4 linked regions of the Homo sapiens genome follow. The protein of the gene in region 3 purifies or fractionates together with the protein of the main gene of each other region. This does not show direct contact. Each region holds a gene or a part of one and is shown on either strand. Other genes may lie near its edges.

The links. Proteins that work in one complex are often made in the same cells at the same time.
Region 1: the proteins of SUSD3 (region 3) and SCGB2A1 purify together in Homo sapiens (affinity purification with mass spectrometry; 3 studies listed by BioGRID and IntAct, with this or other methods). This does not show direct contact.
Region 2: the proteins of SUSD3 (region 3) and SERPINB3 purify together in Homo sapiens (affinity purification with mass spectrometry; 3 studies listed by BioGRID and IntAct, with this or other methods). This does not show direct contact.
Region 4: the proteins of SUSD3 (region 3) and PPL purify together in Homo sapiens (affinity purification with mass spectrometry; 3 studies listed by BioGRID and IntAct, with this or other methods). This does not show direct contact.

The regions. Positions count from the first base shown.
Region 1 is NC_000011.10:62,207,441-62,211,472, reverse strand, and holds the start of SCGB2A1 (mammaglobin-B precursor), read right to left. Parts: upstream 2,801-4,032; 5' UTR 2,742-2,800; coding exon 2,687-2,741; intron 1,061-2,686; coding exon 873-1,060; intron 1-872. UniProt on the Homo sapiens protein: May bind androgens and other steroids, may also bind estramustine, a chemotherapeutic agent used for prostate cancer. May be under transcriptional regulation of steroid hormones.
Region 2 is NC_000018.10:63,659,094-63,663,079, forward strand, and holds the start of SERPINB3 (serpin B3), read right to left. Parts: upstream 2,801-3,986; 5' UTR 2,753-2,800; intron 2,150-2,752; 5' UTR 2,124-2,149; coding exon 1,959-2,123; intron 1,764-1,958; coding exon 1,707-1,763; intron 435-1,706; coding exon 306-434; intron 1-305. UniProt on the Homo sapiens protein: May act as a papain-like cysteine protease inhibitor to modulate the host immune response against tumor cells. Also functions as an inhibitor of UV-induced apoptosis via suppression of the activity of c-Jun NH(2)-terminal kinase (JNK1).
Region 3 is NC_000009.12:93,074,414-93,079,365, reverse strand, and holds part of SUSD3 (sushi domain-containing protein 3), read right to left. Parts: intron 3,931-4,952; exon of another isoform or gene 3,884-3,930; coding exon of another isoform or gene 3,862-3,883; intron 3,583-3,861; coding exon 3,394-3,582; intron 1,521-3,393; coding exon 1,373-1,520; intron 1-1,372. UniProt on the Homo sapiens protein: May play a role in breast tumorigenesis by promoting estrogen-dependent cell proliferation, cell-cell interactions and migration.
Region 4 is NC_000016.10:4,927,149-4,930,648, forward strand, and holds part of PPL (periplakin), read right to left. Parts: intron 1-3,500. UniProt on the Homo sapiens protein: Component of the cornified envelope of keratinocytes. May link the cornified envelope to desmosomes and intermediate filaments. May act as a localization signal in PKB/AKT-mediated signaling.

The DNA.
Region 1 (4,032 bases), on a different chromosome or scaffold from region 3:
AACGAAGATCATGCCACTGCACTCCAGCCTGGGCAACAGAGTGAAACTCCATCTCAAAAAAATTTTTTTCTTTATTTTAGAAAATGCAGAATTTGCACAAATTGTATTTTCTGAGCTAGATAAAAAAAAATAAGAATGTTTTGAATATTTGTTTTTGTGAAAGTAGGAAATTTCTTAGTAGATTGCTCCTACAAGTGTGTGATCTCTTGAGAACCAGATATTTTCTCTTGATAAAAATGTGCATGTTCTGGCTGGGTGCGGGGGCTCAGACCTGTAATCTCAGAACTCTGGGAGGCCAAGGGAGGCAGATCACTTGAGGTTAGGAGTTTGAGACCAGCCTGGCCAACATGGTGAAACTCCTTCTCTAGTTAAAATACAAAAATTAGCCCGGCGTGGTGGCGCACACCTGTAATCCCAACTACTCGGGAGGTGGAGGCAGGCAAATCTCTTGAACCCGGGAGGTGGAGGTTGCAGTGAGCCGAGATTCACGCCACTACACTCCAGCCTGAGTGACAGAGCGAAACTCCGTCTCAAAAAAAAAAAAAAAAATGCCGATGCCTGTCCCCGTGTGTCTGTGTGTGTCTATACTTGTGTGCTTATGTGTGTCTGTGTCTGTGTGAGAAGGGACTGGTGAGGTCAGAGGTAGACGGGTGATCTCTAAGGCTTTCTTTTCTCCTTTTTGCCTTTTCCATTTATCACTCCCTAAAGATTCTCAATGTGAAGTGGCAAAGCAGCCTGGAGACAAAGTTTAATGAATTGATATATAAAGAAAGTTTGTTCACCAGTTGCTTGGCATTCTTGGTGCCAAATTTAGAGCCCGCTGGTTCTGATCAGTGATTTTCAAAGGGTACATAAGAAGAAACCCAAATTACCATCATCAGTCCAAAGTTTTTCAGAGTTCTATGTGACTGGTTGAGGAAACACTGCTTGAATTTCCCCATAGCCTCTGCAGCGGCATCACTGTCTATGAACTCTTGAAGAAGCTCTTTGTATTCAGGTATAGATATGTCGGAATTGATGGTCTTTTCAACCATGTCCTCCAGGAGTTTGCAGCCAGAATCTGGAAAAAAAAAAAAAAAAAAAAAAGACACAAGAACATGGGCCATTACTAGAGGTGTGATTCATTCTACAGATGAATTGGGAAGCTGGCTATCTTCGTACCTCCAGGGACAGACCGAGGTTCAGAAAGATTTTGGTGCAGTATGCAGAGTTCTCAATTCTGGGAGTGTAAACTCAGGCTCTGCAAATTCTCTCTGACCTTCCAAACCCAGAGAAGCCCAACCCTGTGTATTCTTGGTGAAGAGGACCCTCGAGAAATGAGGTGTTCTGACTGGGGGGACATAGCAAACACTACTTGGACTTTCTTGGTTCAAAGTCATGCAATGCTTCCCTGTTATCATGCCCAGCATCAGGTAGGGTTTCCAAGGATTTCAGATGAATGGGTCTAGGACATTGTCCATTAGTTCTGTTGACTCTACTGCAATAAAAGGGAATGTGTGGCCAGGTATGGTGGCTCACGCCTGTAATCCCAGCACTTAGGGAGGCCAAGGCAGGCGAATTGCTTGAGCTCAGGAGTTTAAGACCAGCCTGGACAACACAGGGAGACCTCATCTCTACAAAAAATTTAAAAATTAGCCAGGCATAGTGGTGTCCACCTGTAGTCCCAGCTACTCGGGAGGCTGAGGCAGGAGCATTACTTGAGCCTTCGAGGAAGAGGTTGCAGTGAGCTGAGACTGTGCCATTGCACACCAGTCCCAGTCCCAGCCTGGGTGACAGAGCAAGACCCTGTCTCAAACACACACACACACACACACACACACACACACACACACACACATGAATGTGAAATAGAGCTTGTTCATGAGGGGATCTGAGGTCACCTCCCACTGTAAGGGAGAGGAACGAGCTCAGGACGTGGCTTCATGTGAGCTGGTTGTGCTCTGGACTTTGTGATTTTCCAGTTAGTTGACTGTGAGCTTGTCACCCTTCTACACATCTGCACCTACCTTGGATGCCAATACGGTAGGGTTTGGAATCCACCTTTGTGAACTGCACAAGGCAGGCTACCTATGGAAATATTAGCGCTGATTCCAGCAGCCGGGGCTTTTTCCTCCCACTGAATCTTTAGTGCTGGAAGGAGACTCCAGGGGTTGTGAGTTCTCACCTGTCTGCCTTGAGCCTGAAGCAACTGGGAGGGTAAGGGCATCCCAGAAGGACCCAGATCAACTCTGAGAACACAGAGTGAGCCACACAGGGTGAGAGACACTGGGTCACACTCTGCAGCCTGGGCCTTCTGTCCTGGGAGGTTTCCTATTTCGTTCCATATTCAAGGAGACCCATGATTATTTCCTGATTTCTAGGTGTAGATGCCATCTCTCCCTTGCCCCACTGAAATAGTTCATTTCAATATTTAATCCTGAGACTCATCCTGGTTTCTATGGTCACCGTGACCATGGTGAGACGCTGAGTGCCATGATACACTGTGTGCAGCTCCAATGCAGGGGACAGCCCATGAGGACACTGCATGCTTGATTGTCAGGAACTCATGGGGATCCTAAGGCCTATCGCACCCAGGCCCTTCACACTGGGGCTCGTCTGTGCTGGGGATTAGAGGTTGGGAGTTCTTCTACAGGGGCCCAGGTGACAATTCCTAGCCCAGAAGCAGCCCTCTCTGCCCAGAACTCACCTGCATAGCAGTGCAGGAGGAGGGCCGCCAGCATGAGGACCATCAGCAGCTTCATGGCGAGGCGGCTGCTGTCTGTGTTCAGTCGTGCGTGGCAGGGATCAAGGAAGTTGCTGTGGAGGTGAGTACCCAGCCCTGCTCTATTTATTCCCCAGGGAGGCACCTTAGTCCCTCCCAGGAATGAGGCAATGTGTCAACCTGGCATGGGACCAGGACACAATAGTGTACACCAATGGGAACACAGCCAGCCTGTGCTCTGTTTGTAGAAACCAAGAAGGCAGTAATATTTGGATCCCTGACAATCTGGGGACTACAATAATGATACATGGCTTTTAGTAAAATGGATGTGACAGTGTTTTCCAAAATATAAAGCAAAACCCAGTGGCGTGATCTTGTGGTCTCAACAATGTTGTTATTATTGTAGTTTTCTTCTAGTCCTCCTTCCCTTCTTCCTCCTCCTCCTTCTATTCTTTTTCTTCTATTCCTCTTGGTCTCCTCCTCTTCTCGTTATTCTTCAAGGTACAAACAGTTTCATAACTTGTGTATCTGCCGGTCCTGGAATCATCAAATATTTGGGCTATGTGCAATACCTGCATCTTCCTATGGGAGGCAGACCTTCCTAATCCATAGACATTTCTTTTTCAGAAAAGCGGGTTTTTTTGTTTTTGTTTTTTGGGGTTTTGTTGCTGTTGTTGTTGTTGTTTTGAGACAGAGTCTCACTCTATTGCCCAGGCTGGAGTGCAGTGGTGCGATCTTGGCTCACTGCAGCCTCCGCCTCCCGGGTTCCAGAAATTCTCCTGCCTCAGCCTCCTGGGTAGCTGGGATTACAGGCATGCGCCAGGACACCTGGCTAATTTTTGTATTTTTAGTAGAGACAGGGTTTCACCATTTTGGCCAGGCTGGTCTCGAACTTCTGACCTCAGGAGATCCACCTCACTCAGCCTCCCAAAGTGCTGGGATTACAGGCGTGAGCCACCATGCCCAGCCCCGAAAAGTGCTTTAAGTTTTGGGGAAAACATTAATATCTAACCTCTACTGAAAGCTTCTTGTTATTCTTGTTAAGAATTACAACACTAAGTTAATTCAACTTTACAAATTTATTTTACAATATATTTATAATTTAATTTGTGCTTAGTTCTTTGTTAGCCTTTTACGGTTTTCTATCCACTGACTGAGAGGATGCTGTGAGTGAGTGGAGTAACTGACTGCTTGGGCAGGCAGTGCTAGGCAGTGGGTGGCAATGGGGTTGGGTGATGATGAGATTTAGGTGATAAGATTTGGGCAGGTGTGGGTGTGGATCCTGGAGGCCACACGTACTCATGCTGTGTCTTTGGGCAAATTACAATGCT
Region 2 (3,986 bases), on a different chromosome or scaffold from region 3:
TCGTATGTGACTGAGTCAGTGCCAGTTTATCGATGGTATCTTATTACTTATTACTCTTACTCACTCTATTACCCAACCTCCTCTTTTATTACAAGATTATCCCTAAATCCACACTTCAGTGATGTATTGTTAGGGTCTGGGACACTCCAGTGGGGGAGAGTTGTGGAAACGGAGCTATTGCACTCTGAGTAAATGCTCTCCACCTGGATCGGTCAGGCTCATCTGCCTTGCTTTCTTCCATTTGGCCACTCAGAGACACAGACATCAGGATGCAAATGAAATGTGGGTAGGCCAGGTGAAATTACCTGTAAAAATAGATACGTTTTTTCTCCGAAGAGCTTGTTGGCGATCTTCAGCTCATATGCATCAGTGGATTTGTTGAATTCAGTCAGAAGCTTTTGAAACTGGTGATGAACATTTCCTGACCTATCAACCTTCAAACATCAAAAAAGGAGATCATTCAATTGCTGTATCAATGTAAATACTAAACCCATGCTAAGTCTGTTAGATCAGTCCCTAATGGCTGGTAGTCTCAATGAGGACCTTTGAGCTTATTCCCTGATACTTGGTGTATTTCACCTCAAATACCCTTCAAAATCCACCTTATGTTTCACTTCTTCCAGGAAATTCTTCTTGCTCTAATGTACTGCAATCTTTTCTCTTCTGAACTATAGATGCAGCACTGTCTACCACTGGATTTTGTCCTTGTTGGTTTAAAGGGTTAGGTTTAGCTTCCCAGTTAAACTCTCAGCTCCTTAAAGGCAAGGACCATATTTCACTTCTAACAGTCATCAAGGATATGAGTATGTTGAAGGTTGGATATTTTAAATAGATTATGCCAGGAAGCCCTGTTATACCTGTTGGTGCTGTTATCTTGTAGGACACATTGACTGATCTGTGACTGTTTCCTCATGATGGTCATTCTCTGCACGTAAGAAGAGTGTGTGCCAGGTACATGGCTAAGGACTTTACATGGGTAACTTTAAGTCTTTAGTTCAATTCAGGTGAAAACAAGAAAGCTCAGAGAATGGAAAGTAAACCTCTTCATAGAGACATAAATTAGAAGTGCCACGTTTTGAACCTAAGCCTGTTTAAATCTAGAAACTTCTACTTTCCAGCAAAGCATTTTGCACTATTAAGGCTCTAAACCAATATATTCCATAGCAATCATTTTCCAAAATATAGTTGGACTTGTGCTTATTCCTCTTTATCTCATTAATGACTCAATGAAAATTAAATATTTTGCAACATTATTGTGATTAGTATAATTATAGCTATTTTATAATAATAATAACATTTATTATGACATTTTATGGGCAAGGCAATGTTGTAAACATTTGCATGTATTTGCATGTATTGAGTCAGATTTCTTATTACCCTTAGTTTTCTGGGATGAGGTCACTGGGACTCTGAGCAGTTGTGTCCTGCTCATGTTCACCATTTGTGAAGAGCAAAGCTGGAGTCTGAACCTAGCCTATCCTGATCCAGACCTATGCTCTGAGGTACAGTGCTGACTGTCTTTCAGTAACGAAGAAAGGAGGAATAATAATTATGTGCCATGAAATGCCAACCCACTCTGTATGTCTCAATCTTTGTGTCCAAGATTTTCCCTAAAAATGGCCTTTTCTTAGTTTCTGTGAAGTTCCAGGTTCAAACTATGACCTGTTCGGGGATCTAAAGCTGAACCATAGTGCTCTGTGACTCACATGATATGTTGCAGCTTTTCCTGTGGTGTTCTCTGTGACTTGATCAAAGTGAAGAACCTGGAAGAGACATGAAGCGGGACAAGAAAACTTTACTCAAAAGATCTGTTTAAGTCAGTGGTCTCACAGTTACGGGAATTCCTGCTCAGCCCCCTGTGCTACCCATCAGACCACCACATCTATTACCATCTGCGTGCTAGCCGACGGAACCAGAGAAAAACTGCAACAGGACAACATAATGATGCTGATAGCTACCTTCTTAATCTGTTGTGCAGTGTTGTCTTTGGCTCCTAAGAGGACCATCCCTAATGCTGATGTGATGCTGATAGGGGAATAGAAGATGTTGTTCTCTTTTGATTTTCTGAACTGTTGGAACAGGTCGAACATGAACTTGGTGTTGGCTTCACTGAGTGAATTCATGGTGAACTCGATGTGATCTGGAACTCCTGGAAAAGCATCAGATTCCTGTCAGAATGACTTTAATAAATGGAATGGTATTTTGTAGTACAATTTTCTTAAAGAAATTATATATCTGTGTTGTGAGATTTTGACATTTAAAGTTTTCCTCATCTTATTTTTAACGTTTCAATCTTTCTACAATGTGCATATATTAAATATATTAATGTCTTAATTAGAAGCCTCACAAAATTAGTGTTTTTAAAGACTACTGTAAATAAGTAATAGACCCTCTTTCCTTCATTGCTGGCTACACTAGGGCTAGGTAGGAAGGCTTTACAATGAATGCTAACAGGAGACCTCTGTGGATCACATCCAACCAGCTGTTAAGATGCGTCCCTGACATCTCCTTCAAGACTCTCTGGCTGCAAGGCACTCTCCCTCTGTGTTCCTAAAAGTGCCTTGGTTTACTTGGAACTAAGCAATTTAGATAAAGGACAAATCAGATGAAATAGGTATTTTAATTTTGCTCTGGCAGAATAAGTAAAATATAATCAGACAGAATGCAGGAGATGCATGATATAGAACACAGTATCATTATTATTCTCAAAAATAATTCATGTTATTAAGCTGGAGAGGCTTGAAGCTCTTACCTGTGTTCCTAGAGGAAGCAGAGGTGGGCAGAGAGGCTATGTGTGTCTGTGGAATGAAGGGTGAGATCCTGAATTTATGCCTCTCCTCTTGCTGCCTCTCCCTCTGTGGTTAGTATTTGAAGTTACTCAACTTCAGATTTCACAAGCGGGCTAACACTCACCTTTATGAATACGAAAATTTATGACAAAGGACAGGATTACAGTTCTACCATTGTACCTCCTTTTTAATCTATAGGGAAAAAATAAGAATGCAAGTCAGCAGTCACCGGCTCATGTGAAATACATGTAGGTGCCTTTCTAATGCCAATGAGAATAAGTTTAGAATTCCAATTTCCTCTCATTTGTTTCAACTCCATCCCTTTGTATTCTACTCCAGCTGTAAAACAAAAACAAAAACAAACAAACAAAAACCCCACCATTCTTTTCTTGGATTTTGCATTGTCTTTTAGGCATACTTCGAATACCAAAGAACTAAAAAGCTTACATTTCCTGTTTTTCAGTTCTGAAAGTTTTTGTCATCCTATGAATTTCCTTAGTAATTTTTCTGTATAACAAGGAATATAGTGCTAATTCTAAGTCCAAAGAGATAGTGAAGAAGTGTACTTCAGTATCTTATAGCATACTATGGAGAATAGGATTCTATTGCCTTCTCCTGAATGCTCAGCTTTGGCAGTGATCCTACCAGTCACTTCCTGTGCCCCTTACAACCATCCCAGATGGTTTTCTGTTGCATAGGCTCAGTGAGAAAGTTATCTGCCTTGCTGAGTGATATGGTTTGGCTGTGTTCCCACCCAAATCTCAACTTGAATTGTATCTACCAGAATTTCCACATGTTGTTGGAGGGACCCAGGTAGAGGTAATTGAATCATGGGGGCCGGTCTTTCTTGTGCTATTCTCATGATAGTTAATAAGTCTCAGGAGATCCAATGGGTTTATTAGGGGTTTCTTCTTTTGCTTCTTCCTCATTTTCTCTTGCAGCCACCATGTAAGAATAACTTTTGCCTCCTACCGTGATTCTGAGGCCTCCCCAATCACGTGGAACTCTAAGTCCAATTAAACCTCTTTTACTTCCTAATCTCAGGTATGTCTTTATCAGCAGCATGAAAACAGACTAACACATTGAGTTAACAGGCTGACACTGAGAAGAGCAATTGAAACAGACGGGCCATTTTGAATGTCAGCTTTCTAATTTTTCATTTAAAAATTAAGCAGAAAAAGAAGTTGCTTGACCTGT
Region 3 (4,952 bases):
CAGGCTGGCAAACCTCTCAAAGAGCTGGGCAGTGGATGTTTTTGGTGTGGTGAGACACATGATTTCTCCCACAGCTAAACTCTGCAATTGCAGCCCAAAAGTAGCCACACACCAGTAGACAATGAACATGGCTGTGTTCCAATAAAACTTTACTTACAAATACAGGTGGTGGAAAGTTCTAGGGCTGGACAGTGCTAATGGCTGCACTACATCGTGAACATACTTAATGCTACTGAACTGTAGACGTTAAAAAGGTTAAGTTTTGGCCAGGCGCAGTGGCTCATGCCTGTAATCCCAGCACTTTGGGAGGCCGTGGCAGGTGGATCATGAGGTCAGGAGCTCGAGACCATCCTGGCTAACACGGTGAAACCCCGTCTGTACTAAAAATACAAAAAAAAATTAGCTGAGCATGGTGGCGGGCGCTTGTAGTCCCAGCTACTCGGGAGGCTGAGGCAGGAGAATGGCGTGATCCCAGGAGGTGGAGCTTGCAGTGAGCTGAGATGGAGCCACTGCACTCCAGCCTGGGCGACAGAGTGAGACTCCGTCTCAAAAAAAAAAAGGTTAAGTTTTATGTATTGATATTTTACCACAATAAAAAATAAAAACAAAAAATAATAATAAATTACCATGGGGAAAAAACCTGACAGACAGCCGGACTTCGCTGGTGGGCTGTGGTTAACCAGCCCTCCATCTGCAGTGACAGTGACTCCCTCTCAAGGTTTAGGGGGCGTGTGTGGCAGCCCTGCAGGCCGTTAACACAGCAGAGTACATACTGCATATGTGTGCAGGTTTAAGAATAAAACGGGCCGGGCGCGGTGGCTCACGCCTGTAATCCCAGCACTTTGGGAGGCAGATCACTGGGCGGATCACCAGAGGTCAGGAGTTTGAGACCAGCCTGGCCAATATGGTGAAACCCCATCTCCACTAAAAATACAAAAAATTAGCCGAGTGTGGTGGTACATACCTATAATCCCAGCTTCTAGGAAGGCTGAGGCAGGAGAATTGCTTTAACCCAGGAGGCGGAGGTTGCAGTGAGCTGAGATCACGCTACTGTACTCTGTCGCCTGGGTGACAGAGCAAGACTCCGTCTCAAAAAAAATAAATAAATAAAATAATCCCCCGTGAACCCATAGCCTGGCCTAAGAGCAGGGCCTTGGGGGCCCACATGTCCCCCAGCTGTGATGCTGCCCCTGGCTGCTGCGTGGGCCGGGAGCAGCACTTGGGGGGGAGACGCAGGCCCAGAGCAGCAGTGGTAGGAACGGGTGCCCTGAGGGCAGTGCCGGGGTTCCCTTGAAACACTCTGTCCTTTCCTCCTCCCATGGTGCCAAGAGGCGCCTCCCGGGAGGACCCTGAGATCATGAGGCCACCGTACCTGTTGGAGCGCCGCCGCTTGCTCTTCTTCACGCACTTGAGGAGGCAGCAGGTGAGGAAGGCCATGGACATGAGCAGGATGATGGCACAGCTCACAATGGAGGCGATCACGGCCACCTTGAAGCCAAAGGTCTCGTGTGGTGGCACCACTGTGTGGGAGACAACCACCAGCTCCTGGGCGAGGTTTGCCCAGATTTGCTTGGCCCAGGGGTTGGGGGTCTCAGGGGTGGTACGGGTAGGGCCTGGGTGTAGACAGGGCCTGGGCAGCCCTCAGTGAGCCCTGTTTGCATGGTAAGGGGGCAGTGAGGTGCTGGGGGCTGAGGCAAAGATCTGTGCAAACTATATTTGGAGGTGGGACTATCAGAGAAGACTCTCCCCAAGAAGCAGGTTATTTGAGCAGGGTGTGTAGGAGTATGCAGAGTGGCTATTTAAAGGGGGTATTTAAGCAGGGTTTTCCAGGGTGTGTAGGAGTGTGCAGAGTGGCTAACTGAAGAGGGTATTTGAGCAGGGTTTTGTAGGGTATGTAGAAGTCTGCAGAGTGGTCAATTACAGAAGTTCTGGCAGGGAGTTCAGAGTGATGGCCTCCTTGGCTCCTACCCACTGAAGTCCTGCCTGAGGAATGAAGGAAGGGTGGGCCACAGAGAGGAGGTGACAATAGACAGTACTGAGGAGGCCTTGCCCAGCCCATGGTCTGGGTTTTCACAATGCCCCAAGGTGGCAACATTCTTCAGGGGGCCTACATGCCTTCTCAGGTCACTTTCCAGGAAGGTCCAAAATACTATGTATCTGCTGTGTGACCTCAGCTATGCTCCAAAAACTAGTTCCATCAGATTCTACTGGATGTTCTGGCTAAAAAAGGCCTCGGAATCCTAATTTGAGCAACACCGTTTACTCCCCCACGTAGAGAACATGGCCCTGTCCCCTGCCCCATTTCCCATGCTCCCTAGTGGATCCTGGCCACCCAAAATGGAGACTACATTTCCCAGTGGTCACAGGACCATGTTCTGGCCAGTGGAAGATAAGAAGTGATGTGGGGCAACTTCTAAGAACCTTCCCTGAGACACTGGGGCCTGCTCTTTGGCCCCAGGGCCCCTCACCCCATAACAGCTGCCTGGAACATAGCTGCTGCCATCTTGAATCATGAGGCTGAGGCCATGCCCAGCAGAGCCATGCCAGGGAAGGGGCCTGGCTCCCACTGCCATGGAGCCTATACAGATCTGCCTGCCCACCCTGAAGGTTGAGCTCCATCATAGTTAATCCTAGTATTTTGGGTTTTCTGCCTTTCAGAATCTAATCCTAACACTCGCATCCTCAGAGAATCACCTAGCACGTGAACATTTTAAAGGCTCTGAGAAGTTCTGCAGCATAAAAACCCAGAATCTGCCAAACTATTTTGACTCTGAGCCCTTTTTATGCACAAAACACATGAACATAACACACATAGCTTCATTTTGGAAATGTCATGCTGGGCACTGAAAAGGGACTATCTTGTGGACCTTTCAACACCTGTACAAGAAATACAACCAGAAAACCATTGCCTCCCACAGACTGGGAGCTCCAGGGCCAGGCACGTTATGACCTTCCGTGTTGCCAGTACTTAAGATTCCTGATACGTGAAATATCCTATTAAAGTTGGCCATGTGCACCTGTACATGAATGAATGAATGAATGAATGAATGAATGAACAAACATAGTTTCCTGCTTAACAGATGAAAACGTGCTGGCTCAGAGAGCATGCACAGCCTCTTGGCGGTGAGGGGCTGAGTCGGTAGCAGAGCCAGGATTGGAGGCCCGCTACTAGGTTTTCGGTCCGTGCTGCCAACATGGCACTGGGAGGGCTGAGGGCCTACAGCCGGCTGCTGACATGTAAGCAAGCTGTCAGTGTTGGGAATGGGACCCTACACACTGGCCTAGCTGCTTGTGAGTAGACACCCACGCCATCCCCACCCACACCATCCCCATGACAGGATTTGGGGCCATCCCCCACCCCCAGAGCCACCGAGCTGAGAGAGGGGTCCTTACGTTTGCACACTGGGGACCCTGAAGACCACTCAGCGATGCTCCCCTTCCAGGTGCAGGTGAGGAGCCCAGACCCCACCATCTGGTGGTTGGAGGGGCAGCGGAACATGAGCACGGTCCCCACGGAAGCACCATTGCCACGAAGGACTTGGAAGGTTGCTTGCGGGGGTAGCCGCAGCTTAGCGCACGTGCCTGGGGAGACAGGCAGGTATGAGGCATGGCGGGGGGGGGGGGGTGGGCACGCAGGGCAGGGCTGGGCAGGACCCTGGAGTGAGGAGCTGGCACAGCATTGGGGAGCACAGGGGTGGGGTGCAGCTCCAAAGGCCATTGGATGCTCTAGAGGTCACATGGGGTCATCCAGACCGGGGGACAACGCAGAGCTGGATCCCTCCATGAAGTACACTCTAGATGTTGAGGATTGGAGCATTAAAAAAAGAAATAAGTGTTAGAAGACAATAAAAGCAAACATACCTTCCCTGAGACACTGAGGCATGGCCTTTGATTATGACCTAAACACGGCTCCAAAGGCAGAAATCAGAACAAAAAAAAAAAAAAAAAAAAAAAGAGGGACAGAGAGAGATCAGCAGATTTGACTGCATACAAAGCAGAAAGCAAAAGCTTCTGAGGCTCCCTAATAATGGAAAACAACCAACTCAGGTGAAAAATTCGGGAAAGGATATTTGGAAAGCATAGGTCAAAGGTTGGTTCGGTAGTCTTAATCTATGAAGAGGTCTTACACATCAATGAAAACTGAATATTCAGTTTAAAAAAAACCAACAAGTTCTAATGTGTGAACAAGCAATTCACAAGGATACCAGTGGCCCACAGTCATGAAAAATGCAGACCCACAGGCAATTGAGGAAATGTTGATTCAAGGGAGAGCTCATTTTTCCTGCGTCGGTGAGGTAAAGGCAAAAAGAAAACAATGTGCAAGTTGGCAGGGCCTGGGAAGCCCTGTACCCGGGCTGGGGTACAGATCCAACCTTTCTGCAGAGCATTTGGTAAATGCAATAAGCACCCTATGTTGCATATGAACCTTTAGCCACAGGAAATAAGAATCTGCTGGCCAGGCATGGTGGCTCATGCTTGTAATCCCAGCACTTTGGGAGGCCGAGGCAGGTGGATCATGAGGTCGGGGATTGAGACCATCCTGGCCAACATGGTGAAACCCCATCTCTACTAAAAATACAAAAATTAGCTGGGCATGGTGGCATGTGCCTGTAATTCCAGCTACTCAGGAGGCTGAGGCAGGAGAATCGATTGAACCAGGGAGTCAGAGGTTGCAGTGAGCCAAGATCACTGCACTCCAGCCTGGCAACAGAGTGAGACTGCATCTCAAAAAAAAAAAAAAAAAAAAAAGAATCTGCTGCCAAGATTTCTCTATGGGGAAGCCCACCTCAGAACCATACATAATAGTGAAAGGCTGAAACAACCCACGCCTCCAGCAGGAGGGAATGATTCCCTTACCCAGGGCCATCCAGACATTAAAATACCAGAGAGCACTTACAGTGATGTTCTTTTTTTTTTTTTTTTTTTTTTTTTTTGAGTCAGAGTCTTGCCCT
Region 4 (3,500 bases), on a different chromosome or scaffold from region 3:
CGGTGAGATTACAAAACACACACCTTCCCCAAGCTATATGCCATTTTATAAGACACACACACTTGAAACTAAATGATACAGGAAGGTTGAGAATAAAGAATGGAGAGTGACATACCAGGCAACTGATACTGAAGAGAGAAAGCACTGTCCATATATCTCAAAGACAAGAGGGAGCGAGGCAATCCATGTAACTATGTGGTTCCCAACAGCTGCACATCAAAAGAATGATGTCTGGACCCATGTCCATGGAGATTTTGACTTAACTGGTCTTGGAAAGGGCTCTGACATGCTGTTCAAAACTCCTCAGGTGATTCTAATGTACAGCCAGGGATGAGAACAAGGAACTGAACCACAGCAAGGTTTAAAAGAAGCAAGATGCCGAAGAATCCTAGATCTCTATAGGAAGGAAGCCCTGTGAGAAAGCAGTACACAGAATGTGCCCAATGAATACCAGATTGATTGGTCAATTGACTGATTCTCTCACTACTAGAAACTCCTGTGCTAATTAGACAGTAAATGTCCTCACACCCAGCTATTAATCCTGTGGAAATATATCCTAAGATGAGAAGGTTGCTGGTGTAGTAATTCCAGGTCTGTTTTTAAGGCCTAATCTGTTTCTGCCCAGGGAAGGCCGCCCTGCCTCCAGGCCTCTGATGGGGCCTAGGGTTCTGTGTCAGGTGAGTGCTTTTGGGCTCCTTTTACAAACATACAGAAGTTCAAGCTGCTTCAGGTAACACCAAGGCAGGTCTTGAAGACAGGGCAACACAGCAAGACCCTATTTCTACCAAAAATAAATAAATAAATAAAATTAGCTGGGCATGGTTGTGCATGCCTCTAGTCCTGGCTGCTCAGGAGGCTGAGGTGGGAGGATTCATAGCTCACTGCAGCTTTGAATTCCTAGACTCGGGGGATAAACAGGGCTCAAGCCAACTTTGGTGCCCCAAGGCATCAGGATGTCACTCTGGGTTCAGGACCACTGGAGAAAGAGCACCAGCCTCCTTTTTCATTTTTTGAGACAGAGTCTTGCTCTGTTATTCAGGCTGAAGTGCATTGCTGCACTTCACTCACTGCAGCCTTCAACTCTTGGGCTCAAACACAAAATATATTTTGTATTTTTAGTAGGGACAGGGTTTCACCATGTTGGCCAGGCTGGTCTCCAACACCTGACCTTAGGCCTCCCAGAGTGTTGGGATTACAGGCATGGGCCACTGTGCCCGGCCATCTCAGCAGTTCTTACCCAGACACTTTGAGAGGGCTGGCAGGGTGTCCTGGCCGCCCCGCCCATCCTTTCCTAGGCAGAGGGTTTTTGTCATGCTTTGTAAGATAAAACACACCAGAGCTGCTGGCTGAGCCTGCAAGGCCGCAGGGCTGTGGGAGAAATAGAACTTGCAGAATTTTTTGCTGCCCCCACTGCCTGGGCTAGGATTTCAGGCTGATACCTTTTAGGGTTTCAAATTCTCTGCCTTCGCCATGGCGATGGTTTGTTTCCCATCGAAGGGTGGGAAAGGATTCCAAGTTTGTACCACAAAGAAGAGACAGGGCTTCAACCCTGCTTCAATCTCAGATAAGAAACTCTATTTGGCTGGGAGCAGTGGCTCATGCCTGTAATCCCAGCACTTTAGGAAGCCGAGGCAGGTGGATCACCTGAGGTCAGGTGTTTGCGACCAGCCTGGCCAACATGGTGAAACCCCGTCTCTACTAAAAATACAAAATATAGCCAGGCGTGGTGGTGGGCGCCTGTAATCCCAGCTACTTGGGAGGCTGAGGCAGGAGAATCACTTGAACCCAGGAGGCAGAGAGGTTGCAGTGAGCTGAGATTGTGTCACTTCACTCCAGCCTGGGCAACAAAAGTGAAACTCTACCTTAAAAAAAAAAAAAAAAAAAAAAAAAAAAAAGATCTGCCGAGAGTCCTGGAGCGAGTCACTCAAACTCTCTGAGCCTCACTTGGAACGAGAGCTGAGGGTAGAATTTATCTCAGACAATGTAATAATCATAATTTAGGGTGATGGTTTTAAGCTAGCACCCAACCTCAAGGCCTTTCTGTGTTCATACCTTTCCCAGTTCTGGTCCCCTCCCCTCTCACTTCCTTGCAGAGACTCTCCATTTTTGTCTCCCCATCCAGAACCTGCCTGCTTGCCTTCCAGGACTGGGCCCCCTTTGCTTCCTGAGGTCCCTCTTCTTCCTCTCCCAGACCTTTTATTTTGCTATGGACTGGACTCTGAGACCCAGGACTCAGGGCTTGCCTGCAGGCTCTTCCCACGCTGTGCCCCCCGCCAGCTGTGCCCCACGCCAGCTCGCCTTCTCTACTCCACCCTTCACCTAAACTGGAAAACTCGTGATCTACTCAGACATGCAGAAAAGTACTGAAAAGAATCAGCCACGCATGTCCCCACCACCACGGTTTGGTTGATGTTTTCACAGTACCATCTTTGCTGCAGATTTTTCTAAAAAGGAAGAGAAATGTTATTGTTCATTATCCTTTCAGGCCCCTTCTTAGGAGTAGCAGAATTTTAGATTTACTGGTTCTTCCTAAGCCTGTTTTATTTTATTTATTTAGAGACAGGGTCTTGCTCTGTTGCCCAGGCTGGAGTGCAGTGGCACAATCACAGCTCACTGCAGCCTTGAATTCCTGGACTCAGGGATCCTCCCCTCTCAGCCTCCTGAGTAGCTAAGACTAGAGGCATGCACCACCATGCCCAGCTAATTTTTTTTTTTTTTTGGTAGAAATAGGGTCTCACTATGTTGCCCAGGCTCGTCTTCAACTCCTGGCCTCAAGTCATCCTCCCGCCTTGGCCTCCCAAAGCGCTAGGACAAGTGCGAACCACTGCACCTGGTTCCCTAAGCTTTCCAATACATAGACACATCTGCATTCAGGAAGAGTAAGTGGAATTGCTCTGTGTATGTTTCTAAAAATGTATATATGCAAGCATCATCTTTGCATCCTTCATCAACTTGCTTTGCTTGCTCACTGTCATGCCTTTTCGGGTCGTGGATACACACATCCCCGTCACCTTCTGTCAACTGCACTCTCTTTATCCTCTCATCTCCAACTGATCCCCGGGTTCGGCGTGGAGGACCTCTCCTGAAGAAGCCTGTGTGGCTGGGTCAGGGCCCTCCTTTATCTCACTATCACTCCGCATTGCTGCCAGCTGTGTACTCAGCCAACTCTCTGCTCACCGTCCTGCACGCAGGAGGTGACTGGATGGGGACAGGGCAGGGGGCAGCCTGCTCAGGCCTCGCACTCCTTTCCACTAGCTGGAACCCCTGCCCCATTCATCCCCACCTCCGGGCTCTGCTGGTCCTGGGGTGTGAAGCGCAGGGCAATGTATGCTCTCTTGAAATGCTGAGGGAAGGGGAGAATCTTAGCAGTCCCCCATGGCTTACTCTCATTCATTCATTCATTCAGCACGCGTGTAGCACCAGTGTCTGGGGGAAGGCAGCCACACAGCCACATGTGGCTACCCCGGAGTCACATAGCTGCTGAGATAAGAGCTACCAAG